3 separate regions of the Homo sapiens genome follow, and regions 2 and 3 are each linked to region 1. Evidence: fine-mapped expression QTL. A gene starts in region 1. Each other region holds a variant in brackets. All regions are shown on one strand. Distances are between the middles of the regions. Region 1 holds the start of TLR6 (toll like receptor 6). Region 2 overlaps TLR6 (toll like receptor 6). Region 3 holds the start of TLR1 (toll like receptor 1).

Region 1 (10,551 bases):
ATTGGGGCCAGGTGTGGTGGCACACGCCTGTAATCCCAGCACTTTGGGAGGCTGAGGCGGGCAGATCACTTGAGGCCAGGAATTCAAAACCAGCCTGGCCAACATGGCAAAACCCCGTCTGTACTAAAAATACAAAAATTAGCGGAGAGTGATGGCACACACCTGTAATCCAGGCTACTCAGAAGGCTGAGGCAAGAAAATCCCTTGAACCTGGGAGGTGAAGGTTGCAGTGAGCCAAAGATCATGCCACTGCACTCCAGCCAGGGTGATGGGAGTGAAACCTTATCTAAAATAAAAAAAAATGTGATTGGAATAATACATCAGAGCAGAAAAATGTTGATACAGTAGAGAGAAGATCATTGCAAGAGTGACTTCCTTGAGTAGATGAGCAGGAAGGGGACCCAGTGCTCAGTGGGAAGGGGCTGGCTCTTGGCACAGAGAGTTCATTCCGAAGGACAGCAAGAGTTCAGGTAGAACTCATGCAGGGGAGGCTTATAGAATTTCAGGGGAAGATGTGGAAATGCTCCTCTGGTAGCATCTATTTTCATTGTGAAAATGAAGCATCATCGCGTGAGAATGTTGGTTTTCAACAAGAATGTTTTAGCAACTATTTAGTAGGCTGTTGAATGTGAGAGTCTGGAGTTCAGGGAAGTCTGGCCTGGAGCTGGTAATTGAGGAGACATCAGCAAGCAGATAGTTTTGAAGCCACGGACCCAGATGACAATGCATGGATTTAGAAAAGAAGTGGTCCAAATCTGAGCCTTGGGTAATCCATGCCAGAGAGATAAAGAGGACCTAGACACGAGAAGGAGATTTTGGAAGTGAAAGAGACAAGAGGAGGTGTGAAAGAGGAGAACAGGAGAGTGAAGGGGCTAGGGAAGGGTAGTAAGGAGGGTAGGAGGATGGCTGCTCTCTTGAGGCTGGGATCTAGTCATACATTTCAAGTAAGCCAGTCAGCATGGGTGTGTATTTTCTCCAACTATATTCAGCCACTCAAGCTCAGTGTAGTCCAGTGGAGAGCTGGATTTAAACTGGGTTGAGGAAAGAGGAGTAAGTAGCTGCAGAAGAATAATGAAGAGGATGGAGCATGATCTTTCAGTCCAGTGCAGTGGGGCTGGGGAATCGTTGGCACTGGAGGAAGAGTTGGAGGTGAGAGAAGGAAAGTGGGATTCAGGCAACTGAGATTATGGAGGGGGTGCAGCCATTGCTAATAATGATATCTAGGATATAATAAGGGAATGCATGACTGAGGTAGGGTGCAGGACAAGATTATTAGAAGAGAGAATGTCCAAGAACTCAGAGGCCAGGTGAATGGAAGAGTCTCTATGTAGCTATGGAAATCACTAGAATTATGAAAGGGGTGGTATCGGATTGAAATAGTGAGTACTGCTAGAATACTTGATGAAGTGATGGGGCTCACTAGATGACTGCAATGAGAAGGGGTGGGTTTGGAGGAAGGAAAGTGATCTGGAAGTAGCAGTGAGAGTCAAGAACACCTGCACCACCTCCCAGGCTCTGGTGTGTGAAGGGTGCACCCAAGAAGATATAGACCACTAGAGGGCGCTGTGCTCAGGCCAGCGTGTAGGTCTCAGTCCCCTGATTTTCATGGGGTTACAATGAAATGGACTCACCTGAAGAGCTTTCAAAATAAAACGTATGCCCGGCCCCTCCCAGACCACTTACATCAGCATCTCTGGACATGTATGTGAGCTCCTGTTTCTTCATGTTCTGGCCACCATTTGTATTACTAGATGTTTTAAATTTTGTCCACCTTAGGGGTGTACAATAGTGTCTCCTGGTTGTGTTAATTTGTATTTTCCCATGTTCTAATGAGGATGCATACCTTTCCATGTGTTTGAGCTATTTCTGTTTCCTTTTCTGTTATCCATCTGTTGATCTCCTTTGCTCATTTCCCCGCATTGGGGTTGTTAGTCATTTTAAAATTGATTTGTAGGAAATCTTTATATATTTTGTATATTAACACTTTTGTGATTATACAAGTTGCAGATACCTTCTCCCAGTCTGCGGCTTGTCTTTTTTTTTTTTTTTTAATTCAGCAGAGAAGTTTAGGTTTACTATCAATACTTAATATATAAATTAGCATTTTTTTTTTTGAGACAGAGTCTCGCTCTGTTGCCCAGGCTTGAGTGCAGTGGCACGATCTCAGCTCACAGCAACCTCCGCCTCCTGGGTTCAAGTGATTCTCGTGCCTCAGGCTCCTGAGTAGCTGGGACTACAGGCGCCAGCCACCACATCCAGCTAATTTTTGTATTTTTAGTAGAGACAGGGTTTCACCATGTTGCCCAGGCTGGTTTTGAACTCCTGACCTCAGGTGATCTGCCTGCCTCAGCCTCCCAAAGTGCTGAGATTACAAGTGTGAGCCACTGCGCCCAGCCAAAATTATCAATCTTATCTCTGTCGTATGTGTATCTTATGATATTGATAATTGTCACAAAACTTACTTTAAAGCTGTTGGTAGACACTAATATTTATTTATTTATTTATTTATTATCTGGAGAAAGACAACATTTTTTAACAAGTAAAAGTCATCAAAATAATGTTTTGCCTGTGTCTGTATTGGGACAGTGTATTGGGTGGCCTCAGATTATGTTTATAATACTTAACCCAGTGTGACACTATTTTTTAAAAATTAAGACATATATACATATCTATATATAGTGAAGAATTCAAATAGGACAAAAAGCATAAAATGGTGAAGAGGCCGGGCGGGGTGGCTCAATCCTGTAATTCCAGCACTTTGGGAGGCTGAGGTGGGCGGATTGTTTGAGCCCAGGAATTCCAGACCAGCCTGAGCGACATGGCAAAACCCTGTCTCTGCAAAAAAATATAAAAATTAGCCATGCATGGTGGTGGATGCCTGTGGTCTCAGATCCTTGGGAGGCTGAGGTGGGAGAATCGCCTGAGTGGGGAAAGTCAAGGCTGCAGTGAGCTGTGATCACGCCACTGCACTCCACCCTGGGCAACAGAGCGAGACCCTGTCTCAAAAAAAAAAAAAAAAAGGCCAATAATCTATTTCTCTTAGTTCTTCTGCTCAAAGGTGAACATTTCTTATGTATCTTTTGAGAAAAAAAGATTCATATGCCTCTATCAACATATGTATGTAGACCCTTGTATTAAGTTTCCTGTGGCTACCATGACAAATCACCACAGACTGTGTGGCTTAAAACAACAAAAATTCATTCTCTCAGAGTTCTGGAGGCTAGAAGTTCAAAATCAAGCTGTTCATAGGGTGATGCTCTCTCCAGCCTCTGGTGGCTCCAGACATCCCTTGCATTGTGACTGCAATACCCCAGTCTCTGCCTCTGTTTGCAAATGCTCTGCTTCTCTGTATCTCTCTTCTCTGTGTGTCTTATGAGGACACAGGGTGTCTTCTAAGGCAGCATAGTATGATGCTTAAGTGCATAGGCACTGGGGCCAAACTGCCTGGGTTCGAATCCCACCCCCACCACTGACCAGCAGTGCAAGCTGGAACGATTACCCAGCTGCGCTAAGTGGAGATGACGTGACAGTACTTATCTCACAGCACCTTAATGAGTTAATACTTGGAAAGTAGTCACAGCAATGCCTGGCAAGAAGATAACCTGTGTAAATGGCTAGATTTTATACAATTGATGTCATACTCTTCTTACAGTTCTGCACCTTAATTTTCTTTCTTTCTTTTCTTTCTTTCTTTCTCTCTTTCTTTCTTTCTTTCTTTCTTTCTTTCTTTCTTTCTTTCTTTCTTTCTTTCTTCCTCTCTCTCTCTCTCTCCCTCTCTCTCTCTCTCTCTCTCCCTCTCTCTCTCTCTCCCTCTCTCTCTCTCTCTCCCTCTCTCTCTCTCTCTTTCTTTCTTTCTTTTTTCTTTTGAGCCAGAGTCTCACTCTGTTGCCCAGGCTGAAGTGCAGTGGCACAATCTCAGCTCTCTGCTACCTCTGCCTCCTGGGTTCCAATGATTCTCCTGCTTCAGCCTCCCGAGTAGCTGGGAGTACAGTTGCCTGCCACCATACCCAGCTAATGTTTGTATTTTTAGTAGAGACAGGGTTTCGCCATGTTAGCCAAGCCGGTCTCGAACTCCTGACCTCTGGTGATCTACCCACCTCGGCCTCCCGAAGTGCTGGGATTACAGGCATGAGACATCGTGCCCAGCCTGCACCTTGATTTTCTTCACTTCATAGTATATCCTGAAATCTTTACCCCTCAGCATACAAAAAAACTATATGATTTGCACCAAACTCCTTACTATTATGACTTCTCTTCTGTGTCAGTCACTATTCCAGCCACTTTAAATTCATTATCTTTCCTAAAAGTACTCCCATTTTGTGGATGAATAAATGGAGGTTAAGGGACTTGTCCCAAGCCTCACAGTAAGTGGCCAAGTGGAGGTTCGGCCCAGTACTGTCTGTTTCTTTGTTTGCTTAACTGTCATTGCCATCTTCGCTATTACTTGATTTTTGTGTTTTTGTCATCCCCTTACAGACGTTTCTGAGTTATGACAGCCTCGACAAGAATAGTCTCCTTGTTTCTGAACATTGGTGTTGTGATGCAATCTCCTAATGAGACATGTCAATGTGCCCAGATCTGCAGTGATAGTTGTCTGTTTTCTTAAGACTTTAGTCCACGGTTACTTGAAATTCCCTCAGAGCCACAGCCAGCCCTTTCCCTTGGCTTGTTTCACAAATCTGGTTTTCCAGGGTCACAGATACCTGCTGCTTTCTGGCTGTCTCCTTTTGCCAGTGGAGCAGAGATCCATCCACTCCTTACTGAGCCTCCCCAGGCCTGAGGAGACTTCCTGTTATGTTTGATGAGTAAGGATGAATCACAAGAAGCCAGCCTTTCTCTTCCTCCTGAAAGCAGAAGTGATTCTTACGGAGATGTCCAACTTTGTCATTAGCCAAATTGTAAGGTCTTAACTTGTTGTTGTTTTTTTTTTAATAAAGATGAGATTGTGCCAGACAGTGAGATAAATTATAGAATGATTGTTTCACTCATGCCTTCTGTCCTTTGCAGAACTCAGTTAAGCAAGAAGTCTGGGGAAAAGGGTTTACTGTCCACCAGAAGTCTCTGTTTAACCAGAGACTTCTGGTAATCAGCCTTTGTTGATGTCATTCTGAAATTCTTCTAAATGGTCTTTAGAAAATTGATTTTTAAATTAGTCTTGCAGGATTTCAGTGTTATTTATTATTCCTAAATTAAAATCTAAACCATTTAATAACACCAAATGTTGATCAGAATGTGGGTATGATTGCTCGTACATATGGCTAAATATGTAGTCATAAATATGTATCAACCAGTAAACTTTCCTTAGAAGTTGATTTTTAAAAAAAAACCCAAATTGTGGAACTATACTTATTTTATTTTAAACTATCTCATCCAGCTAAAATAATGCTCAAAATTGCTTGATAAGGGAAACTGCAATTATTCTTGAAATGTTAAATATGGTGATAATAGAAAACAGGCTGTTTAAAATAACTTTCCACTCAGGTGACAAATGTAATAACCAGGCTGCAAACTCTTACAGAGAAATATTACCTTAGAAAAATATTTTTCTTCACATTGAATTGTTTGTAAGTTGCTTCCTCACACGAATTAGAAAATTGGATTACTGGTTTTGTCTGTAGCCCAGAAAAAACTGCTAACTCACCTCCGGACCTTTGAAAGGTAAAAATATACGTAGGAGTAATTCCAGTGTGGGCCAACAGATGGCACCAATCTGTTTCTAAGGTACCGCTTTACTCAACTTTAAGAACTTGTGTTTGTCAAGCATTTTCAATTGTATTTCCGTTCATTTACAAGTTATTTTCTCTTCTTCTGAAAAAGAGATCTTGGTAAGTAGAAAGACTTCTGTGGCTTTTTCACATTATGGCACAGGTGCTTCAAGTAAGCAAGTTTGCTAACCATTCATTATATAGGAAATAGGTAATGTTTCCTTGAAATTTTTGCAAAATGATTTGAAGTGGTTTTTTTTGTAGATGTTGCAAATGTCCTTTGAATTTCACGAGCAGGATGAAGAGCAGCGTCTTTACAGCTGTCTTGAAAAGATAGAAAACAACTAGCGCTTGTGGTGATAATTAAGGAACAAAACTAATGTTATTTATTTCTTCTGATTTGGCCCAGCGAATTTTCTCTTTTCGTCTTTCTCTAGTTTATTGTTTTCAGTAACATTTAACAGTAATTTTTATATACCACTGATATGGCACCTATTTATTATATGTTTTTACAGCAGACGTGTGTTTGATCTCCCTTGTCGTTTGTCACTGTAACAGTTTGCTGGTCTGTGTCTGTCCCTAATTCATAAGCTTTTTGAAAGCAGGAATTATGTCAGTCCTATTCATATTTATATCCCTGGTGCCTAGTGCGTAGCATGGCACTGGCAGAAAAATAGACTCTGAATAAACATTTATTAAATGGAGGAAGTGGCCGGGACCAAGCCCCTTCACAAGCTTGAATCTGGCACAGTGTAGCAATTGCCTTCCTCCAGGTCCTTCCACCTTCAGTTTGACAAATGAAACAATGTTTTTCTTGCCTATTTGTTAACTTGATTATGTGATCTTTCCTCCACTTATTTCACTTAATTTTTTTTCTGCTCTCTTCTTCCTTGTAGTTTTAATTTTCATAGGTCTTGTCTACCCTTTTTTTCTGAAATGTAGCTTATTTCATCTATTTCCTCACCCTTTTTATTTGATGCATTTAAAAAATCAAGAGCATTTACCTGTTTATTTTTACTTTCTTTAAAAAACTGTGAACTCTCTAATCTTCCACTCTCATCTTCCCATTTTTCCCTCCTTTTTTCCCAATAAATAGAAAAGTTACTATCTTGTTCATTTAGTGTATTCCCTAGGAACTGCCTCAGGGTATGAACGCCTCTGGAGGAATATTGCGTTTTTGTGGCAGGATACCATAAGGACAGCTGACCAGCTTTTCCACCTGGTGACTGATTTTCAGTCCCATGAACCCAGACACCGTGGGTCTGGTTGCCGGGGACCTGTAGGGTAGGTCCTCATCTGTGAATGCCAGTTATCTACTATTATCTGAAAGTTCTCCATCTTTATATTTTAATATTCCAAATAAAACAAGCACGTTTCTTTAAATATAAAATATTTTCACACAGCTATAAAGACAACTCTTAAATTGCCTTACGATAACTTTTTTGGATTATAAAGGACATTCAAAATGAGACATTTTAGGGATATCTGAAAGTATAAGAAAGAAAATTAAATTCATCTATAATTCAGAGATTCAGAGAACCACTATTATTAGTATTTGGTATATTTCATCACATTGTTTGTCCTCTAGCTTTTACGTATATGTCAGGTTTTAATCATATTTTGCAAAATTAGAGTCTTACTACATATATAATTTTTTTTTTTTTTTTTTGAGACGGAGTCTTGCTCTGTCGCCCAGGCTGGAGTGCAGCGGCACGATCTCGGCTCACTGCAAGCTCCGCCTCCCGGGTTCACGCCATTCTCCTGCCTCAGCCTCCCGAGTAGCTGGGACTACAGGCGCCCGCCACCACGCCCGGCTAATTTTTTTGTATTTTTTTTTAGTAGAGACGGGGTTTCACCGTTAGCCAGGATGGTCTCGATCTCCTGACCTCGTGATCCACCCGCCTTGGCCTCCCAAAGTGCTGGGATGAGAGGCGTGAGCCACTGCGCCCGGCCATAATTTTCTATTACTGTATTCATTTAACATTATCATTTTTTCAAAGTACAGTATTTGAGGCTATTATTTAATTATACATAACTGATTTAATCATTTTCTACACTAGACATTCTGATTTTTTCAATATTTCATTATGTCATGAGTATCCTTATAGTCATATCTTCTGTGTGTTATTTTTGACTATTTCTTTAGAAAATTCCTTGTAGTGGAATTGCTAAAATAAAGGAAGGTATATTTTTAAGAAATTTATGTAAATTACCAAATTACCCTTTAGAAAGCTTGTACTAATTTTTCATTCCTGCCTAAGTAGTAAATGAGGGTTCTTATTTTAGTTTCCACCTACCAACCTGGATATTATATTTTTTAATTTTCCCTATTTGATAGGTGAAAAAAAAATCTTGCCTTTTAAAAAATCTTTTAAGAAACAAGAGTCCTCCTTTGACCCCCTTCCTCTTTTTATGCTTAAATATCTTATAGTAAAAATAACAGGCATTCTGGAAACCTATTTCTAAAAGCTTTATTCTCTATCTCTAAAAAAATTACATTTTCCTAAAATAGCCAAATAACATTATAAAAAATTACAATTTATTTCTTAATAGCATCTAATGGCTGGTCCATCATAGAATCTGCCCCTCCTTCTGTTACTGAATATGTTTTATAGCAAGTCTGTCTTAACTGAGATCTAATCCAAGATCATGAGTTTCATCTAGATGTTATGTGCTTTTTTGATTTAACGTGCTGTTTTATTTTTTGTGAGATTGCACATTATTCATATTATTGGCAATTGATTTTTGGCAAATTATTCAGTAAATAGTACAGTAAACTTAATTTTGAATGTTAAAAGTTTGAAAAATATAGATAAAAACTAAGAGGAAAATAAAGTTCCATTATAATCTTACTGTGCAAAGATAATTACTGTTCATATCTTGGTATGTATCTTATTAATTTTTCTACTTGCATAGGTACATATTTACTTTGGTACTTTTTAAATAAACTGCTTTTTGTCACATATAGTGAAAATATTTTCATGCAATTCGATTTTTATTATTTTTAAAGGCTACATAGTACTATTTAATTATACAGAGATACTAAAATTTATTTGATAACCTGCTATTTTTGGATAATTGAGGGATTTGTTTTCAAAATAGAATTTATTTTTGCCAGGAGCAGTGGCTTGTACCTGTAACCCCAGCTCCGTGGGAGGCTGAGGTGAGAGGATGGCATGAGCCCAGGACCTTAAGCTATGATTGTGCCACTGCACTCCAGCCTGGGCAGTGGGACAAAACCCTGTCTCTTAAAAAGAAAGTGTTTAAGAAAATAGTAATGATAATAATTTATTTTGTGACGGCCACTTTATTGTAGTCTTTTATTGGTGCTAACATTTTTTCAATGACTTCTCTTTGGCTTTCCACATTGACAGTCTTATAATCTAAAAATAATAATGATTTTCTTTCTTCATTTCAGTATTTCTTCCTGTCATTTTTTTTCTTTATTACAGTGGTTAAAACTTCCGGAAAGAACAATGTGTGCATTCTTTTTTTTTTATTATTATACTTTAAGTTCTAGGGTACATGTGCACAACATGCAGGTTTGTTATATATGTATACATGTGCCATGTTGGTGTGCTGCACCCATTAACTCGTCATTTACATTACGTATATCTCCTAATGCTTTCCCTCCCCCCTCCCCCCACCCCACGACAGGCCCCAGTGTGTTATGTTCCCTTTCCTGTGTCCAAGAGTTCTCATTGTTCATTTCCCACCTATGAGTGAGAACATGCGGTGTTTGGTTTTTTGTCCTTGCGATAGTTTACGAGAATGATGGTTTCCAGCTTCATCCATGTCCCTACAAAGGACATGAACTCATCCTTTTTTATGGCTGCATAGTATTCCATGGTGTATATGTGCCACATTTTCTTAATCCAGTCTATCATTGATGGACATTTGGGTTGGTTCCAAGTCTTTGCTATTGTGAATAGTGCCACAATAAACATGTGTGTGCATGTATCTTTATAGCAGCATGATTTATAATCCTTTGGGTATATACCCAGTAATGGGATAGCTGGGTCAAATCGTATTTCTAGTTCTAGATCCCTGAGGAATCACCACACTGTCTTCCACAATGGTTGAACTAGTTTACAGTCCCACCAACAGTGTAAAAGTGTTCCTATTTCTCCACGTCCTCTCCAGCACCTGTTGTTTCCTGACTTTTTAATGATCGCCATTCTAACTGGTGTGAGACGGTATCTCATTGTGGTTTTGATTTGCATTTCTCTGATGGCCAGTGATGATGAGCATTTTTTCATGTGTCTTTTGGCTGCATAAATGTCTTCTTTTGAGAAGTGTCTGTTCATATCCTTCGCCCACTTTTTGATGGGGTTGTTTATTTTTTTCTTGTAAATTTGTTTGAGTTCATTGTAGATTCTGGATATTAGCCCTTTGTTGGATGAGTAGATTGCAAAAATTTTCTCCCATTCTGTAGGTTGCCTATTCATTCTGATGGTAGTTTCTTTTGCTGTGCAGAAGCTCTTTAGTTTAATTAGATCCCATTTGTCAATTTTGTCTTTTGTTGCCATTGCTTTTGGTGTTTTAGACTTGAAGTCCTTGCCCATGCCTATGTCCTGAATGGTATTGCCTAGGTTTTCTTCTAGAGTTTTTATGGTTTTAAGTCTAACATTTAAGTCTTTAATCCATCTTGAATTAATGTTTGTATAAGGTGTAAGGAAGGGATCCAGTTTCAGCTTTCTCCATATGGCTAGCCAGTTTTCCCAGCACCATTTATTAAATAGGGAATCCTTTCCCTATTTCTTGTTTTTGTCAGGCTTGTCAAAGATCAGATGGTTGTAGATGTGTGGTATTACTTCTGAGAGCTCTGTTCTGTTCCATTGATCTA
Region 2 (10,551 bases), 27 kb after region 1:
GTATCTTTTAAGTGAGGAAGTTAATCTTTTTACATTCAAGGTTATCACTGATAGGTAACGACTTATTTCTGTCATTTGGCTTATTGTTTTCTGGTTGTTTTGTATATCCTTTGTTCCTTTCTTCCTCTCATTGTTTATCATTGAACTTTGGTGGTTTTCTGTAGTAGTAACTTCAACTCTTTTCTCTTTCATTTATGTATTTGCTCTACTAGTGAGTTTTATACTTTCATGTGTTTTCATAATGGTAGATATAATCTTTTCACGTCCAGACGTTCTACTCTCTTAAGCATTTCTTGTAGGGCTCGTCTAGTGGTGATGAATTCCCTCAGTTGTCGCTTGTCTGGGAAAGAATATTTCTTCTTCATTATGGAAGGACAGCTTTGATGGGTATAGTCTTCTTGGTTGACAGTTTCTTCTTTCAGCACTTTGAGTATATTATCCCATTCTCTCCTGGCCTATAGTTTCTGCTGAAAAATCTGTTAGTCTGATGGGGAGTCTCTTCTATATGACTTGACTTTTTTTATTTCTTGCTGTTTTTAGGATTCTGTCTTAGTCTTCAACTTTTGAGAGTTTGACTGTGATCTTCCTCAGAGAGAACATTTTTGAATTAAATCTACTTGGGAATTTTTAAGCTTCTTGTATCTGGATGTCTATACCTCTTGTAAGACCTGGAAAGTTTTTAGCTATTATTTCATTAAACATGTTTTCTATCCCTTTGCTCATCTCTTCTGCTTCTGGAACTCCCAAAATGTGAATTTTGTTTGCTTAATGGTGTTCCATAGGCTTTCTTTATTCTTTTTTATTCCTTTTTTTTTTTTTTCGCCTCACTGGGTTATTTCAAAAGACCTGTCTTCCAGTTCAGAAATTCTTTATTTTGCTCAATCTAGTCTACTGTTTTTTAATTTTTAATTTTATATATATATTTTTTTTTTGAGCTGGAGTTTTGCTCTTGTCACCCAGGCTGGAGCATAGTGGTGCAATCTCAGCTCGCTGCAACCTCTGCCTCCTGGGTTCAAGCAATTCTCATGCCTCAGCCTCGCAAGTAGCTGGGATTACAGGTGCCTGCCACCACGCCCAACTAATTTTTGTAATTTTTTTTTTTTTTTAGTACAGATATGGTTTCACCATTTTGGCCAGGCTGGTCTCGAACTCCTGACCTCAGGAGATCCACCCACCTCAGCCTCCCAAAGTGCTGGGATTACAGTTGTGAGCCACTGCACCTGGCCTAGTCTATTGTTTGTACAAGCTCTTGATTATATTTTTTTACTTCATTTATTGACCTCTGTAGTTCCAAAATTTCTGTTTTGTTCTATTTTTAATATCTATTTCTTTGTTGAATTTCTGACTCAGATCATAAATTATTTTTCTGATTTCTTTTATTATTTATCTATGCTCTCTTGTAACTCACTGAGTTTCTTTAGTATCATTATTTTGAATTACTTTTCAGGCATTTTATAGATTTTCTTTTTGTTGAGATCTGTTATTAGAGAATTATTGTGTTCCTTTGGAGGCTTCATGTTTCCTTGCACTTTTGTATTTCTTGTGTCCTTATGTTGATATCTATGGATCTGATGTAATAGCTGCTGCTTCCAATTTTATGGATTGGCTTTGATAGGGAAAGACTTTTGCCTCTAGGTGTTTTTATAGTGTTAGTTGAGTATAGGGTGCTTTGGCTTTGATTCTGAGTGGGCACAGCAGTGTAGTTTCTGTATGATTTCTTCACCTGTCATCAGTGTCAGTGGCATTTGGGTTCCTCAGTGGCTTAGGTTACAGTTGTCAGCAGACACTATGGCAAGGCTTTGCTGGGGATGGGGACACCAGGCAGGCCTGTTCTCAGGCAACAGTGGTGGCAGCAGTGGCCTAGGCTTGCCGGTTCTCAGGCCCCTGTGTGAAATATGTGGGCACTCGTGGTGATGGGTCCTTGAGCCTCCAGGAGATTTAGTTGGATGCTTGCAGTGGCAGTAATGGACCAAGTGGGAGGGCAGGTTCTTGGGCCCCTGCACAATTTGTGTGGCATTAACTGTAGCAGTAGGAAAAGTGGACCAACCCTCTGGCCCCCAAGTGGTAGACACAGGCAGCAGCAGGCTGGGCAAGCCAGTCCTCAGGACCCCGTGTGGCATGCATGTGCCACACCCTGTGTGGCACTGCCCTGCCATGGCAGTGGCAGGCAGGCACTAGCAGCAAAGGGCATGGTGGACCTGTCCTCAGGCCCCTTGGAGGCATGTGTAGATGTGTCGTAGTCCTGCTGCTAGGGAAGATGGGGTTGCTGTAAGTGGCGGTGGCCCTGGGCAGGTAACTCTGAGGCTCTGGGGAATGCACACTTTGACTCCCTTTGTCCCAGGGAAAGCCACTAGGTGCACTGTGCTTCCTGTTTCCTGGGATGCGGGGCATTGCATGGGCTAGAGTGCTGGGGACCTAGCTGCACTGCTGATCTTAGCTGGCATTACAATGCTGTAGCCCTCTAGGTGGACGTAGGAGAATATCAGTGGGGCTTCAGGGGTGTGGAGATTCAGGGTTGTTGGGCCCCAGAACAGGATGTGTATGGTGAGGGCTGGGCTCTTAAAAGAGCCTTATGCTGAAGCTGTTTGGGTCTCAGGGTATGGGGTATGTGGGACCCAATGTGAAGTCCCATTGTGGAACAATGTGATTGCATATATTCCAGACAGCCCCAGGGCATGTGAAGGCCAAGGAGCTAGCTCATGGCTAGGATTACAGGAGTCCATAGTGGAAACATTGACCTCTGAAGATCTCTCAGTTAAACTTTCCCTGGAATGGGAAGTTCCTCCTGGTTCTGAGCTAGTCCCAGCTGGGCTGGCTGCTTCACTTCCCTCTTCTCCCATGCCTCAGAGGTGCACTGTCACTTCTCCGCTGAATTCCAGTGTTCTCTCTTAGATGCTCATTCAATGTGTGATTATCTGCTCACTGTTTTGGTCCTTCTTTGCAGAGGGGGTGAGGGCTAGGTGCCTCTATTCAGCCATTTTAATGCTTCTCCGGCTCATTTTTTAATTGTTCAATAGTATTTTATTGTGTGAATGTACCAGTTTGTTAATATTTTTATCTATTGAGGGATATCTTGTTGCTTCCAATGTTTGACAGTTATGAATAAAGCTTCTATAAACATCCACATGGAGGCTTTTATGTGGACATAAATTTTCAGTTCTTTTGGTTAAATACCCAGGAATGTGATTTGCTGGATTGTGTGATAAGACTATGCTTAGTTTTATAAGAAACTGCATTCCATAGTGGCTGCACCATTTTGCATTCCCACAAACAGTGAAAGAGAGTTCTTGTTGCTCCACATCCTCACCAACATTTGATGTTGTTTTTGGATTTTACCCATTCTCATAAGTGTAATGTAATTTCATTGCTGTATTAATCTGCAAAACCATGATGAAATATGATGTCAAATAGCTATGTATATGTGTATTTGCTCTTTACATATCTTCTTTGGTGAGGTGTCTGTTTAGATTTTTGTGCCCATTTAAAAACTAGGTTGTTTGTTTTCTTATTGTGGAGCTTAAGAGTTCTTTGCATAGTTTGGATACAAGTCCCTATCATATATGGGTTTTGCAAATATCTTCTCTGAGTCTGTGGTTTGTCTTTTTCACTCTCTTGCAGTGTCTTTTGCAAAGCAAAAATTTTAATTTTAATGAAGTCCAACTTAACAGTGTTTTCTTTCTTGGATTATGTTTTTGATGCGTATCTCAAAAGTCATCACCAAATCCAAAGTCACCTAGATTTTCTCCTATGTTATCTTCTGGAAATTTTATAGTTTTGCATTATACATTTAGGTCTATGGTTAATTTTGAGCTGATTTTTGTGAAAACTGTAAGGTCTGCGTCTAAATTCTTTCTCTTCTTCTTCTTTTTTTTTTTTTGCATGTGGAGGTCTAATTGTTCCAGCACCATTTGTTGAAAAGACTATCCATTCTCCACTGAGTTGCCTTTGCTCGTTTGTCAAACAGCAGTTGATTATTTTTTTGTGGGTCTATTTCTAAGCTCTGTATTCTGGTCATTTGACCTATTTGTCTATTCTTTCACCAAAACCACACTGCCTTGATTGCTGTAGCTTTGTAGCAAGTCTCAATGTTAGGTGGTGTCAGTTATCTGGCTTTGTTCTTTTAATTTCTTTTTTTTTTTTTTCCTGTGAATGAACAATACTTTCTGTTTCTTTGCATGGCTAATTTTTTTAAACAAATAAATTAGAGATTCCTTTAATGCCAAGTTACACAATCAAAAAGATAACAATCTCTTTCCATTTGCTTTTTGCAAGGTTTGTGTTATTTCAGGGCAAAACGTAGAGCAAGTCCACTGGCAAATCTGGGGGCTAGTGATTATTTTGTTTTGATTTTTATTTTTTTAAATCAGACATTTTAAACACTACAATGAGGTAACTCTAGAAATCAAATTCTGTCCCCCTTTCCCAGAGGTGTTTTATTTATTTATTTATTTATTTTTTGACAGGGTCTCATTCTGTCACCCAGGCTGGAGTGCAGTGGTGTAATCACAGCTCATTGGAGCCTCGACTTCCTCGGCCCCAAACAATCCTCCCACTCAGCCTCCCAAGTAGCTGGGACTATAGGCACACGCCACCATGCCCAGCTAAGTTTTGTATTTTTTGTAGAGATGGAGTTTCACTATGTTGCGCAGGCTGGCTTTGAACTCCTGGACTCAAGCAATCCACCTGCCTTGCCCTCCCCAAGTTCTGGGACTATAGGCTTAAGCCACTGTGCCGGGCCTCCCTTTCCCAGGGTGTATTGTTGCTTCTTGTGGCTTATAGTTGCTTGTTTAATGACTTTTCTAAATAATTTTTATAAAGATTATTCTTTGTCATGTGTGGCTATTACATTTTCTGTCCAGTTAGCTTAGTGGTCAGCCAGTAACTTGAGATTTCTTTAAACATCTGGAGCAAAAACAAAAACCAAATAAACTAGCAAAAGCAAAAACAAAAACACCCCTGATCTTTGCAGGTTGGCTGTGTTGGATCACTTTCTCAATGCTTAGCCAGTCTATTCACAGCTCTGCTTTAGCCTTCACTTTCTGCATGCATGGAAGCTAAAGATGAGCCAGAGGTGAAGTTTAGGATTTTCTCAGGTCTCCTCTGAACATGCGTCCAGCCTTGGGCACGTGAGTGGACTTCTGGACTCCCTGGTATATACAGAGATTTCCTCAGCCTTTTTTCTCCCACATATCTTTCTCCATATATCTTTGCATATTTCCCAGACTTTTTGATGTGTCTGCTGCTTGCCCCCTCTGTTAGCCCTTGCTCAGGTGGCTGCAGCTAGTATGTTTGCCTTTAATTGTTTACAGCAAACACCAGCCAGAAGGCTGTTCCAGCCCTGAGAAAGTTCTAAGGTGTACAAAACAAAGGCAAGCCCCTGAGTGTGAATCCCTCAGGCAGCAACCAGACAGGTCAAAACACACAACCACAATTCTTTGATAACAAGGCCTATATTGCCCCTTCTGGCATGAGCAAGCTATATAACTGGTTATAAAAAGTATTACATTAAATTATGGGGACAGAAATGACTCTACTAGTGAATGAAGAAATCATTTAGATTTTATGGTTAGTAAGTGGAGGTTTGAGAGTAACCATCCGATCTTTATTAATCTTAGTGTATATTATATTTCTAGAATTTGGACTCATATCAAGATGCTCTGAAGAAGAACAACCCTTTAGGATAGCCACTGCAACATCATGACCAAAGACAAAGAACCTATTGTTAAAAGCTTCCATTTTGTTTGCCTTATGATCATAATAGTTGGAACCAGAATCCAGTTCTCCGACGGAAATGAATTTGCAGTAGACAAGTCAAAAAGAGGTCTTATTCATGTTCCAAAAGACCTACCGCTGAAAACCAAAGTCTTAGATATGTCTCAGAACTACATCGCTGAGCTTCAGGTCTCTGACATGAGCTTTCTATCAGAGTTGACAGTTTTGAGACTTTCCCATAACAGAATCCAGCTACTTGATTTAAGTGTTTTCAAGTTCAACCAGGATTTAGAATATTTGGATTTATCTCATAATCAGTTGCAAAAGATATCCTGCCATCCTATTGTGAGTTTCAGGCATTTAGATCTCTCATTCAATGATTTCAAGGCCCTGCCCATCTGTAAGGAATTTGGCAACTTATCACAACTGAATTTCTTGGGATTGAGTGCTATGAAGCTGCAAAAATTAGATTTGCTGCCAATTGCTCACTTGCATCTAAGTTATATCCTTCTGGATTTAAGAAATTATTATATAAAAGAAAATGAGACAGAAAGTCTACAAATTCTGAATGCAAAAACCCTTCACCTTGTTTTTCACCCAACTAGTTTATTCGCTATCCAAGTGAACATATCAGTTAATACTTTAGGGTGCTTACAACTGACTAATATTAAATTGAATGATGACAACTGTCAAGTTTTCATTAAATTTTTATCAGAACTCACCAGAGGTTCAACCTTACTGAATTTTACCCTCAACCACATAGAAACGACTTGGAAATGCCTGGTCAGAGTCTTTCAATTTCTTTGGCCCAAACCTGTGGAATATCTCAATATTTACAATTTAACAATAATTGAAAGCATTCGTGAAGAAGATTTTACTTATTCTAAAACGACATTGAAAGCATTGACAATAGAACATATCACGAACCAAGTTTTTCTGTTTTCACAGACAGCTTTGTACACCGTGTTTTCTGAGATGAACATTATGATGTTAACCATTTCAGATACACCTTTTATACACATGCTGTGTCCTCATGCACCAAGCACATTCAAGTTTTTGAACTTTACCCAGAACGTTTTCACAGATAGTATTTTTGAAAAATGTTCCACGTTAGTTAAATTGGAGACACTTATCTTACAAAAGAATGGATTAAAAGACCTTTTCAAAGTAGGTCTCATGACGAAGGATATGCCTTCTTTGGAAATACTGGATGTTAGCTGGAATTCTTTGGAATCTGGTAGACATAAAGAAAACTGCACTTGGGTTGAGAGTATAGTGGTGTTAAATTTGTCTTCAAATATGCTTACTGACTCTGTTTTCAGATGTTTACCTCCCAGGATCAAGGTACTTGATCTTCACAGCAATAAAATAAAGAGCGTTCCTAAACAAGTCGTAAAACTGGAAGCTTTGCAAGAACTCAATGTTGCTTTCAATTCTTTAACTGACCTTCCTGGATGTGGCAGCTTTAGCAGCCTTTCTGTATTGATCATTGATCACAATTCAGTTTCCCACCCATCGGCTGATTTCTTCCAGAGCTGCCAGAAGATGAGGTCAATAAAAGCAGGGGACAATCCATTCCAATGTACCTGTGAGCTAAGAGAATTTGTCAAAAATATAGACCAAGTATCAAGTGAAGTGTTAGAGGGCTGGCCTGATTCTTATAAGTGTGACTACCCAGAAAGTTATAGAGGAAGCCCACTAAAGGACTTTCACATGTCTGAATTATCCTGCAACATAACTCTGCTGATCGTCACCATCGGTGCCACCATGCTGGTGTTGGCTGTGACTGTGACCTCCCTCTGCATCTACTTGGATCTGCCCTGGTATCTCAGGATGGTGTGCCAGTGGACCCAGACTCGGCGCAGGGCCAGGAACATACCCTTAGAAGAACTCCAAAGAAACCTCCAGTTTCATGCTTTTATTTCATATAGTGAACATGATTCTGCCTGGGTGAAAAGTGAATTGGTACCTTACCTAGAAAAAGAAGATATACAGATTTGTCTTCATGAGAGAAACTTTGTCCCTGGCAAGAGCATTGTGGAAAATATCATCAACTGCATTGAGAAGAGTTACAAGTCCATCTTTGTTTTGTCTCCCAACTTTGTCCAGAGTGAGTGGTGCCATTACGAACTCTATTTTGCCCATCACAATCTCTTTCATGAAGGATCTAATAACTTAATCCTCATCTTACTGGAACCCATTCCACAGAACAGCATTCCCAACAAGTACCACAAGCTGAAGGCTCTCATGA[C/T]GCAGCGGACTTATTTGCAGTGGCCCAAGGAGAAAAGCAAACGTGGGCTCTTTTGGGCTAACATTAGAGCCGCTTTTAATATGAAATTAACACTAGTCACTGAAAACAATGATGTGAAATCTTAAAAAAATTTAGGAAATTCAACTTAAGAAACCATTATTTACTTGGATGATGGTGAATAGTACAGTCGTAAGTAACTGTCTGGAGGTGCCTCCATTATCCTCATGCCTTCAGGAAAGACTTAACAAAAACAATGTTTCATCTGGGGAACTGAGCTAGGCGGTGAGGTTAGCCTGCCAGTTAGAGACAGCCCAGTCTCTTCTGGTTTAATCATTATGTTTCAAATTGAAACAGTCTCTTTTGAGTAAATGCTCAGTTTTTCAGCTCCTCTCCACTCTGCTTTCCCAAATGGATTCTGTTGTGAGCAAGAGTTTATATGGCTTCATGGCAGCAAGGGAACAGTCAACTTCAGCATCATATGCACCAGTCCTCGGAGTGCCCTGTGAATCATATTGGTCTTTGGGTCAGTGTCATCATTCTCTTCAAGTCTGGGGCTTGGGGAAAAAATTAGATCAGCTACGGCATATAAAAAAGTCTTTTGTTTCACATATGTGTAATAGCTTATTTAATTTTTTATCCTGCTACACAAATATGTAATTAACCAATGAGGACTCATGACTTGATAGTGTATGTATGTAAAGGGATATATGGACTTAATCATAAGCTGTTGAGGTGAAAGACGTGGATCCACCTGCTTTCCAAGAAAACTCGGCCAAATTTATTTGCAGCTGGATATTGAATGGGACTTTTCTGGTTGTCTTAGAATTCTGGCTAAAGGCTCAAAGCTGACGAAAGACAGTAACTGCACCAACATGATACTAGACACAGCCAGTCTGGACTTATCAAAAGAGCAGAAAGAGACCAATGACTCCCAGTCCGTATTATCCATCTCTAGAAGACTAGAGTCAAAAGCGTGATTAAAGAGTCATTAAGCGGAGGTTCTAGGCCATAGGGAGATTGCTTTGAATTTCTTGCAGACAAGTGTGAGGGACTCAGCATGGTAGAAGGTAGCCTGGCATCCCACTCCAAGACTGAAAGCTTGCAGAGTAACAGGAGCACACAGGTTCAGTGCAGCAGATGTGGTGTGGCTTGAGAATTCTTGGAAGAGCTTGATGAGTGTTTGCTGGAGTCCGAGGGTGGGCACTGGGAACACAGAGACTGGTAAATAGTGTTTGGCAAATACAAGTGCTTGATGAATATTTGTTGAATGAATAGATGAGTTCTTCCCCCCTGGGGAATTCAGGAGGTGAAAGGTTGGCTTGAGCACCCAAAATGGCAGGATGAGAGAAGAGAAGCACTGATAGCAACCTGCCCTCCCATTATTGACATGGTAAAAGGATGTGAATTTCTTCACATGGCTTTGACTATGGAAGAGTAGCTGGGCTTGCATTGTCATGACGGGATATCAGCCAACAGGGTAGCCTGTTGTGCAAAGAAACTATAGCAGTAAGAGGACACGGGGTTAGGCAGAAGAGGGGTTTGGGGTGGAGGTTGCTGCAAGAGGTCAGCCAGATAATGTGGCCCTGCATCATGGAACTGTGCAATGTGGGGTACACTCAAGGCCCTCCAATAACTCACAGATGTGCCCTATGAAAAAGCCAGCATTTGGACTCTGCCATAGCAGCTGGCAGGATCATGCTGGCCTGTCTGCCTTATTCAATAGTTAACTACAGGAAGATCTGCTCCTCTTTGTGTAATACCCTCTTCCCTTGCAATGGCATAGGGACATCTAGAATATAGAGAAGACAGAGACAATGGAGGAAGAGTAAAGAAACTGACTATATGCCTTCGTCATTTCACTGCAAGGAAGGCCAAGCAGATTTTTGAATGAGGTGTGAGATTGCTGTTAAATTGGACTGGCCTGGACATTTTAATCCCTTAAATAGAGGTGCAATGACTAAAGTGAGATTTGTCACTAAAATTTATGGTATCTGCCCAAGATTCAGGAGTGATGATGGGAGGAGATCCAACAGAACTTTGTTGTAAGGCAATGGTTAGAGAAAAATGAAGCCCTCGCTTTCTGGACTTAGTTCATTCAATAAACCAGTTTCGGCCAGGCACGTTGGCTCACATCTATAATCCCAGTACTGTGGGAGGCTGAGGCAGGTGGATCACTTGAGGTCAGGAGTTCGAGACCAGCCTGGCCAACATGGTGAAACCCTGTCTGTACTAAAAATACAAAAATTAGCCGGGTGTGGTGGTGTGCACCTGTAGTCCCAGCTACTCGGGAGGCTGAGGCAGGAAAATCACTTGAACCTGGGAGACAGAGGCTGTAGTGAGCTGAGACAGCGCTACTGTACTCCCCGCTGGGCAACAGAGTGAGACTCCATCTCAAAAAAGTTAAAAGAAAAAAAATCTGGTTTCATAATAGCTGTAACGAAATAAGCCTTAATGATATTTTATTAGCATCATCTTCTGTCTGCATTAGCCCTTCCTTGCTCTTCAGGAGAACAACATTTGTTTTCCTCCCTAGGCTCTATCCCAAACGGCACATTCTTCCACAACCCCTGTTGAACAGATTTTTTAAA
Region 3 (10,551 bases), 56 kb after region 1:
CCTAAGTAGCTGAGATCACAGGCATGTGCCACCACGTCCGGCTAATTTTTTTTATTTTTAGTAGAGACGGGGTTTCGCCTTCTCTACTAGGCTGGTCTCAAACTCCTGACCTCAGGTGATCTGCCTGCCTCAGCCTCCCAAAGTGTTGGGATTGTAGGCATGAGCTACCATGCCCGGCCTGAATTATACACTTTAAACGGGTGTATTTTTTATCGTTTGTGAAATTTTTTATGGAAGGTGAAATTTTTTATGGTTTGTGAATTATATATCAATAAGGTTTTGTTAAAAAAAAACACAACTAACTACAGATTACATCTAATTGACAGCATATTTTTACTGCCCTGAATCCAAAAAGAAATGCCCAGGTATGGGCTAGGGGTGGGCAGAGACACACACACTTGTAATCATGTACACAACTGGGAGTAGTGGGGATGAGTCTGTGGGGAAAAACAGGAATTCAGAGTGCTGAGAAGCTTCCCTTACTGCCCTGCCCACTTCCCTCCCCTGGGCATTGCTCCCTCAGCCTGGATTCACAAAGTCAATGCCTTTGGGAGCCAGGAACTAAATTCTTAGTCAAAGACACCTCCCTCCTGTCCAGTTATGGGTCTCAGGGAGGAAATGGCAGGTGGGTGGTTTCATTCTTTCAGTTTCAGAAAATATCTGTAGACATAACATATTTCCTCTATTAAACAAATTCTGAGGTAAGGGGAAACAGAGAGAGACAGTCAGAACATTATAAGTCGAAAAGAATCTCAGCATTCTTAGTTTAGGGAAGTTGGCCTTGCTCGCTGTGTGGTAGAAAAGCTGATTACGGGAGAGAACCGTGGAGGGAAGGAAGGGAGGCAGTTTTGTCATCCCCACATCCGGTTTTGACTGGACACCATGCAGGCTGAGATCAACTTCAGAGGCAGTCAGCTGGAATCCCATAGCTTTATTTGCCCATTTATTGTGTTGTTATTTTGTTGTTGTCATTACTGGAAAAGGCAAGAGTAGAGCTATCAGAATGTCTTCCTTGAACATGCTGTCAACAAACCCCAGGATTTTTATAAACCCTATGTGAAAAACACGCTAAGAATCTCTTTTCTTCTTAGCATATTTTTCACTTAGGGTTTACAAAAATATGTTTTGAAGAAAGCTTGAAAAGATCAGTGGAAAAAAATTCAGCACCAAATTTTCTCTGAAAATCAACTTGTCAAAAAAGACGTGATTAACATCCATCCTGTAACCAGCACATGAATGATCTTCCCTCTTTACGAGTGTGCTTCAGCAAAACTTTAATCTCGACCCCTCCCTCTTTCCACTTTTAATAGTGGATGGATGAAAAGGCAAGAGGAAAAACAAAGCAGCCGAAACACACCCAGACGCACACTTCTGCCAAGCATAGCCACCACGGTAAGCATTTTGAATTCAGCCAATTATGATCTGTGGATTATTAACATTACCTCATTTACTTCATCAGTGTAGACAATAGTAAACTGACTGTAGTGAAATTTGGAACCATAGAAACGTGATTCTATTTTAATACAGGCCTATCAGGTAACCCACAGACTATGCTACATATGAATAAGAGAAAATAAGTTTATTCTTAACTATGTAATGTAATTCCAGTGGAATTCGGTAGGTGGCATAAAACAGCCTTTTTGTTTTGTTTTGTTTTCAACACCAAATGTGGTTAACAGTGAAATAAATTCAAGGAAGTGCTTGAATTTCTTACAGACTGCCAAATGGAACAGACAAGCAGGTTGTCTTGGTAAGCAACACATTCTTTTCTTTTGTAAAAGAAAATAATTGTATAGCTAGTTATTAAGTACAGAAGTCTCAAAAATCTGTGTAAGTCCTGGGTGTTTTTCTAAGTGGGTTATATTTCTGATATGTATATAGTTACTGTGTAGTTTGTACTGGCATTTGTGTATCAGTTCTGAGTCCTAAATCAGAGAAAGTCCCCACACTCCTCTGGGAATAACACCTCGTGTGTGATTTGCTTATAGGAAATATTTTTGAGTTGGGAAATGAATATTTGGGTCACACACGTCTTCTGGTTTTCTTCCAGAGCAGCTGCTAGTTGTTGATTTTGACAGCATTTCTCTTCACCTAATCCCGCCATTTGTATTCTCTTCTCAGTGTTAAAGAAAATGAGATATAAGTCAGTTACTCCCGGAGGCAATGCTGCTGTTCAGCTCTTCTGTTTTTGTGGCCAGGTTTGTTTCAGTTTTTCTCTCTGGGGCCTTCCCACTAGCTAGTCCTTCTGTTTCTCAGGCCACTAACACTGTTCTGGGGAGCTAGACGTGAGGTAGAATTGCAGGTTTTGAAAATGTTTCCCAGGCTACATCCAATTTGGTCAAAAGACTTGAAAGTGAATTTGTTTTATAACAAAGCAAGAGTTCACAAAACCGCATAGAAAGCAAAGCAGAACAGTTCTTGAACTGTCTCAGATTCTTTTAACCTTTGGTTAATAGCTATTTGGTCTTGTGCAGAGAAGGCCCTTAGTAAATATTTACAGGACTAAACTTAATGGGCCAGATAGATTGTATGGGTATTGTCCATTAAGACCAGTCAAAGCCTTGATTTGATGCCTCCAAAGTCTCCAAAAGAAGACAAATTAAATGTATTGATTCATTGTATCATATAATGTGAGGCTAAACCTATCATAATAATGAAAATTCACAGAAGCTCACCTAGAGGCATTTTACACTTTCAAATTAAAGCATCCTTTTCTGCTCAGCTTATTTTTTGGATAGTAAAAGAGTTTAAAGGTTCTAAAATAGATGAGGCTCAGTCATGGTCATTAAGACGTTGATCAAAAAATTCTTTGGTCTAGGAAACTGAGACATTGATTTTCATGGATTTAGCAAGTTTGGTATATAAAATTCAAAGATCCTGGAAGTATTAAAAATCAGTTATTCCTGTGTATAACATTTTGATTTCTTAATTATAGAAATAAGAATGGTTTCATAAACTGAGTACTTAAAATTAATGACTTTAAATGAAAGGGCAAGATGGAGGTTAGGCAAATAGAAGATATTTGAGTCAATTAATTTAGCTCGACATAAAACTGAAGCTATGCTTTCATTAAATGCTTGCGTTAGCAGTGGTGAATCCATATGGGTCGTAGAAACTTAATTCTTGCCTCCTCAGTGGAAAGAATTTGTGTGAGGGGCATAAGGCAGAGTGAGAGACCGAGGCAAGTTTTAGAGTAAGAGAGAGAGTGTCACGCCCAGGGCCAGGTTCCAGCCCATACTGAGGTCTGAGGGGAGGGGGTGGATGAGCAGATAGCTGAAAGAACACTCAGGGGGCCGTAGGCAGGTGAAAGGTGATTTTATTCAGCAACAGCTCTCATTAGCAGCTTACTTACAGTAGTTCTCTCAGACTGTCCGCCTTGTCCTGGCTGCTTAGTTCGGCAGCTTCCACACACAACTGTGCGTCCGGCTCTCCCTTGCCCTCAGGGTCAGCAGCTTAACTCTTTCTCTCTCTGGGTACAAGCAAGCCGAGCTGTGTCCTGGCTCCCCTCAGTCCATCTGCAAAGATGGACAGCTTTGGCTCTCTCTCTCTCTCTTTCTCTGGCTGCCAATGCACCTGTACAGCGTCAGCAGGGCAATTATACCATTTACGGACAATAGTGGCTTAGAGCCAAGGGATGAACCTTCCCTATGTTATGGCTATGGTAAGCTTCTCTATGTTATGTCTACATGGCTATGATAAAAAGTGAGTTATACGCCTGCGCTCTAAACTCGCTGAGTCACTCTGGATGTTTACCTTGGCCTATCCTTGACCAAAGCACAGCCATATTCCTTACAGAGAGTTTATTAAGAAGTTTTAGATCAGGAACGAAAGGAAATAAAGTACACTTGGAGGAGGGCCAAGTGGGCAACTTGAGAGATCCAAGTGCCCAGTTTAACCTATTACTTGGGGCTTATTTGTTGGCAGGCTTCTGGAGTCTTGCGTCTCTTCTCCCCTGATTCTTCCCTTGGGGTGGGCTGTCTGCATGTGCAGTGGCCTGCCAGCCCTTGGGATGGGCTGCACACACACTGTGTTTACTGAAGTTGTGTACATGCTCATTGGAGACATTTTTCCCTTGCCAGACAAGTCTTCCTAGAGGAAGGTCACATACCCGTTGAAGTCCGCCATTTTGCCTCTTGGTATGCATGCTCAAGCCTGCTTGCCCAGCTCCTGAGAGTTTGTCAGGAGTCTGCTAACCACCAGCTTCAGGTGTGTTTTCTATCTATTAGGAGACTGACTTTCCCTGATGCTGGCTGCAAACAATTATTATTCTAGAGAGACTGTTTTTTTGTTTTTGTTTGTTTGTTTTTGAGACAGAGTCTAGCCCTGTTGCCCAGGCTGGAGTGCAATGGCATGATCTTGGCTCACTGCAACCTCTGCCTCCTGGGTTCAAGCAATTCTCCTGCCTCAGCTTCCCCAGTAGCTGGGATTACAGGCACCTGCCATCACGCCCGGCTAATTTTTGTATTTTTAGTAGAGACAGGGTTTCACCATGCTGGCCAGACTAGTCTCAAACTCCCGACCTCAAGTGATCCACCTATCTCAGCCTCCCGAAGTGCTGGAATTACAGGCGTGAGCCATGGCCCCCGGCTTAGAGAGACTGTTTAACAACTGCCTGATCATCACCTGATGGTCACCTGATATTCCTGGTTGGGGGGCCCCTCTCCTGTCCTGCTCATGTCTGCCTAAGTACCTACTCTAACACTTGGGGGCAGGCAGTTATATAAATTTATATATTTTTGTGATGATAGCTGTTGTTAAGGGAAAAAGGACAACTTTCATCTTGCGTGTGGTAGGTTCTGCGAGCCAAGCTCTCGCACTCATGCACGGGGTCCTGTGTGCCTCTGATCACTTTTGAATACCACGCCTGAC[T/G]GTGCTGATCACTGCTTCCATGAACTCTGGAGTTGGCTAGGAGGTGGAAAGAGCCTTGATCTGGATTCAGGCATAGGAATAAGCAGGGAACCCCACTTAGGCCTTAAGACCAGGCCACTTTTGCTTCGACCTAGCTTGGCACTGCCCCAGGGTATTATTTTTATTCCCATTATTTTAGTCTGTTTAAATTGCTGTAACAAAGTACCAGAATGGGTGACTTATAAACAACAGACACTTACTTTTCACAGTTCTGGAAGGTAGAAGTCTAAGATCAGGGTGGTAGTGTTGGGTTCTGGCGAAGGCCCTCTTCTGGTTTGCGGATGCCTCCTTCTTGTATTTTCATATGGCAGAATGACAGCCTGAGGCTCTCTGGGGTCTTTTTTATAAAGGTACTAATCTGACTCATAAAGGCTCTATTCTTATGACCTAATTACTTCACAATTTTCTCCTGCTAATACCATCACCTTGGGGGTTAGGATTTCAACATAAGAATTTCACAGGGCACAAACATTCAAGCTATAACATCCATTGAAATATTGCTCCTTGTGTGAGTAGCTCTTTAAGGAAGCTGGAGAGGAAGAATTGGGAAATTTCCGGGTCTTTCAGCCAAATACAGTTAATGTCATAAAAACACCACCTTGACTTTTAACATGAACATTAATGTCTGCATCATCTTCCTTGCTCAGGGTCTTCATGAACACTAATAGGGGTACCAGGCCCTCTTCCTCGTTAGAAGAAATCAGGATAACAAAGGCATATTGGGCACCCCTACAAAAGGGTAAGTCCAAGGAAGGCTCCAAAACCCAGATAAGTTTGCACATCTAAATTGGGGAACTTTTGTAACCGAGGGTTGTTTGTAGCAGCTAAATTATTTAGGTTCTCTGTGCTCATTGAGATATGGGAGGGGATATGTGAAGAGGAATTTGGTGCTTTGCTGATACTAATGCCCTGCTTGTCTAATGGTTCTAGGGGATTTTGAATAAGTTCCTTGTGAGAACTGGGTAGCTGTGTAATCACGGCTGAAAGGGTCTCTGGAGGTGAGGACTGCACACTCTAGAGTTCATCCCAACACAGCTCCCTCTGTTCTCATACGCCACTGGAATGCTGACCACAAAATGGTGTCTTAGCTAGAGCAGTTTGAATACTGGTACAATAGGCATAACCTAGAACAGTGCCTACCACTGCATGGAGAATAAATACATATTTGATGAATGAATGAAAAAAGTATTCTGAATAAGAGAGAGGAGGAAACAACTCCCTTTCTCAAAACCTCCCAGTGTTCTCCACCCTCTCATCATTTTTGGAATAGAATCCCAACTCCTTGCAATGATCAACAAAGCCTGAGTGATCTTGGCCCTAACTCCTCTCATCTTCCCTAACTCCTTACTAACATTGACCTTCCCGTTCCTTCTCAGACAAGCCAAGCTCAATTCCATCTCAGGTCCTTTATACTTGCCTTTTCTTTTGCCAGAAATGCTGTAGGTTACCCAGATCTTCCCATAGGTTACTCATTCACTTCATTTTGATTTCTACTCTAGTGTCATCATCTCAAAAAGGCCTTCTCTAACTAATCACTCAAAAATAGCCACCCCCAAGCACTGTCTCATACCTACAATTTACCCTGCTTTATTTTTCTCTACAGAACTTATCACTACAGGAACTTGAGTTTAGTCATTCATTTATTTTCTGTCTCCCCACTAGATAAAAACTCCTTGAGAATTCGGACTTTATCTTGTTCACTGCTCTATCTCCAGTTCTTAAAACATGGCCAGTAGGTGATCAATAAATACTGGTTGAATAAATAAATGGATGAATAAATGGATCTTCTGAGAGGCCTTTTATCAGGATCTAATTACCTTTTGAGTAAGACCAAAGTTAGACCCAAACCGTGTATAGGTCATAAAGGGTAATAGAAGAGCAGTCCCAATACCACCATTAGGAACACCTCTTGAGAAAGTCATGGGGAGATGTACGTCAAAGAGTGAAAGTACACCAGTTGAGTCTTAGCTGGAGTTCTAAATAATTTTGGGAAGCTTGGGGCCAGAAAACTTTCTATGAACCCACCTGTATTAGTTTCCTGAGGCTGCTGTAACAGATGATCATAAACGTGGTGGCTTTGCCCTCAACGTTCTGGAGAGCAGAAGTCGAAACTCAAGGTGTCAGCAGGGCCACCATCACTCCAGAGCCTCCTCTAGCTTCTGGCGCCTGTTGATGTTCCTTGCCTTGTAGCTGCTGCACTCCAGTCTCTGCCTCCACTGTCACAAGGCCTTCTCCTCTGTGTCTCAATTGCCTCTTCTCTTGTCTCTTTGTCAAATATCCCTCTGCCTTTCTCTTAAAAAAGCACTTGTCATTGGATTTATGGACCACCTGGATAATTTGGGATGATCTCCTCATCTCAAGATCCTTAACTTTATTATCTCTGCAAAGACCCCTTTTCTAAGGAAGGTAACATTCATGGTTTCTGGGGATTAGGACATGGTTAAGATGTAGACATATCTTTTGGTGAGCCACCATTCAACCTATTACACCATCCATATTAAAACTTATTTGATTAGAGCTGGCATCATTATTTACCAATATATATACTTCTCTAGTTTTAGGCCATGTAACCCAAAAGAATGTAGCCTCCACTTTATAAGTCTGTAACAAAAAAAAGTTTAATGTCAGCCATGACTAATTTCGTGTATTTTAAAAATGTATGTAATGTATTTCATCATTTCATTATTTTTTTTCTAGAATCTGTATCTGTATCAAGATGATCTGAAGAACAGCTTCTACCTTTAGGAATGTCTAGTGTTCCAAAATGACTAGCATCTTCCATTTTGCCATTATCTTCATGTTAATACTTCAGATCAGAATACAATTATCTGAAGAAAGTGAATTTTTAGTTGATAGGTCAAAAAACGGTCTCATCCACGTTCCTAAAGACCTATCCCAGAAAACAACAATCTTAAATATATCGCAAAATTATATATCTGAGCTTTGGACTTCTGACATCTTATCACTGTCAAAACTGAGGATTTTGATAATTTCTCATAATAGAATCCAGTATCTTGATATCAGTGTTTTCAAATTCAACCAGGAATTGGAATACTTGGATTTGTCCCACAACAAGTTGGTGAAGATTTCTTGCCACCCTACTGTGAACCTCAAGCACTTGGACCTGTCATTTAATGCATTTGATGCCCTGCCTATATGCAAAGAGTTTGGCAATATGTCTCAACTAAAATTTCTGGGGTTGAGCACCACACACTTAGAAAAATCTAGTGTGCTGCCAATTGCTCATTTGAATATCAGCAAGGTCTTGCTGGTCTTAGGAGAGACTTATGGGGAAAAAGAAGACCCTGAGGGCCTTCAAGACTTTAACACTGAGAGTCTGCACATTGTGTTCCCCACAAACAAAGAATTCCATTTTATTTTGGATGTGTCAGTCAAGACTGTAGCAAATCTGGAACTATCTAATATCAAATGTGTGCTAGAAGATAACAAATGTTCTTACTTCCTAAGTATTCTGGCGAAACTTCAAACAAATCCAAAGTTATCAAATCTTACCTTAAACAACATTGAAACAACTTGGAATTCTTTCATTAGGATCCTCCAGCTGGTTTGGCATACAACTGTATGGTATTTCTCAATTTCAAACGTGAAGCTACAGGGTCAGCTGGACTTCAGAGATTTTGATTATTCTGGCACTTCCTTGAAGGCCTTGTCTATACACCAAGTTGTCAGCGATGTGTTCGGTTTTCCGCAAAGTTATATCTATGAAATCTTTTCGAATATGAACATCAAAAATTTCACAGTGTCTGGTACACGCATGGTCCACATGCTTTGCCCATCCAAAATTAGCCCGTTCCTGCATTTGGATTTTTCCAATAATCTCTTAACAGACACGGTTTTTGAAAATTGTGGGCACCTTACTGAGTTGGAGACACTTATTTTACAAATGAATCAATTAAAAGAACTTTCAAAAATAGCTGAAATGACTACACAGATGAAGTCTCTGCAACAATTGGATATTAGCCAGAATTCTGTAAGCTATGATGAAAAGAAAGGAGACTGTTCTTGGACTAAAAGTTTATTAAGTTTAAATATGTCTTCAAATATACTTACTGACACTATTTTCAGATGTTTACCTCCCAGGATCAAGGTACTTGATCTTCACAGCAATAAAATAAAGAGCATTCCTAAACAAGTCGTAAAACTGGAAGCTTTGCAAGAACTCAATGTTGCTTTCAATTCTTTAACTGACCTTCCTGGATGTGGCAGCTTTAGCAGCCTTTCTGTATTGATCATTGATCACAATTCAGTTTCCCACCCATCGGCTGATTTCTTCCAGAGCTGCCAGAAGATGAGGTCAATAAAAGCAGGGGACAATCCATTCCAATGTACCTGTGAGCTAGGAGAATTTGTCAAAAATATAGACCAAGTATCAAGTGAAGTGTTAGAGGGCTGGCCTGATTCTTATAAGTGTGACTACCCGGAAAGTTATAGAGGAACCCTACTAAAGGACTTTCACATGTCTGAATTATCCTGCAACATAACTCTGCTGATCGTCACCATCGTTGCCACCATGCTGGTGTTGGCTGTGACTGTGACCTCCCTCTGCAGCTACTTGGATCTGCCCTGGTATCTCAGGATGGTGTGCCAGTGGACCCAGACCCGGCGCAGGGCCAGGAACATACCCTTAGAAGAACTCCAAAGAAATCTCCAGTTTCATGCATTTATTTCATATAGTGGGCACGATTCTTTCTGGGTGAAGAATGAATTATTGCCAAACCTAGAGAAAGAAGGTATGCAGATTTGCCTTCATGAGAGAAACTTTGTTCCTGGCAAGAGCATTGTGGAAAATATCATCACCTGCATTGAGAAGAGTTACAAGTCCATCTTTGTTTTGTCTCCCAACTTTGTCCAGAGTGAATGGTGCCATTATGAACTCTACTTTGCCCATCACAATCTCTTTCATGAAGGATCTAATAGCTTAATCCTGATCTTGCTGGAACCCATTCCGCAGTACTCCATTCCTAGCAGTTATCACAAGCTCAAAAGTCTCATGGCCAGGAGGACTTATTTGGAATGGCCCAAGGAAAAGAGCAAACGTGGCCTTTTTTGGGCTAACTTAAGGGCAGCCATTAATATTAAGCTGACAGAGCAAGCAAAGAAATAGATTACACATCAAGTGAAAAATATTCCTCCTGTTGATATTGCTGCTTTTGGAAGTTCCAACAATGACTTTATTTTGCATCAGCATAGATGTAAACACAATTGTGAGTGTATGATGTAGGTAAAAATATATACCTTCGGGTCGCAGTTCACCATTTATATGTGGTATTAAAAATTAATGAAATGATATAACTTTGATTTAAACAGTTCTGACACATAAGGGATCCACTTGTTTCTTTGCTATAACTGAGTTCTGAATTTATCATGAAGTCAAGGGAAGCACCTGTTTTTCTTCAGTGATGTGTGTTCTAGTGTATCATGGCCAATATTGGAAAATGCCGTGACTTTTGTGAATATAGCTGGGTTTGTATAGCAGATTTCTACAGCTTTTGATGCTTTCCTCATATCCATGGTGCATTCAACTCAACTTATTGATGGCTGCTCGTTGATAAAGCTGGAGACACTATGCCTGAAGGTTCCTCCCCAACCCCCCACCATCATGCCCACACAAAGGGCAGTTCA

What was found. PIP is the estimated chance that this variant, and not a neighbour inherited with it, causes the effect.
Region 2: its variant is fine-mapped to the expression of TLR6 in whole blood (INTERVAL, PIP 0.98).
Region 3: its variant is fine-mapped to the expression of TLR6 in whole blood (INTERVAL, PIP above 0.99).

Annotation. Positions count from the first base shown.
Region 1 is chr4:38,852,035-38,862,585 of GRCh38, reverse strand. It overlaps TLR6 (toll like receptor 6), which reads left to right and starts at 5,769. Exons shown (of 2, transcript NM_006068.5): 1 at 5,769-5,825. RefSeq lists an enhancer at 4,121-5,320.
Region 2 is chr4:38,824,620-38,835,170 of GRCh38, reverse strand. TLR6 (toll like receptor 6) reads left to right here. Exons shown (of 2, transcript NM_006068.5): 2 at 5,634-10,551. The coding sequence starts at 5,698. The coding sequence ends at 8,088. Among named protein-coding and RNA genes, the nearest start is that of TLR1, 25 kb to the right of the region's middle. RefSeq lists an enhancer at 3,535-3,704. The variant C/T (reference allele first, on the strand shown) is at 7,964.
Region 3 is chr4:38,795,953-38,806,503 of GRCh38, reverse strand. TLR1 (toll like receptor 1) reads left to right here and starts at 1,713. Exons shown (of 4, transcript NM_003263.4): 1 at 1,713-1,750; 2 at 2,122-2,198; 3 at 5,556-5,647; 4 at 7,606-10,249. The coding sequence starts at 7,673. The coding sequence ends at 10,033. RefSeq lists enhancers at 713-882, 1,841-2,010, 1,945-2,114, 2,022-2,191, 3,582-3,876 and 2 more. The variant T/G (reference allele first, on the strand shown) is at 4,870.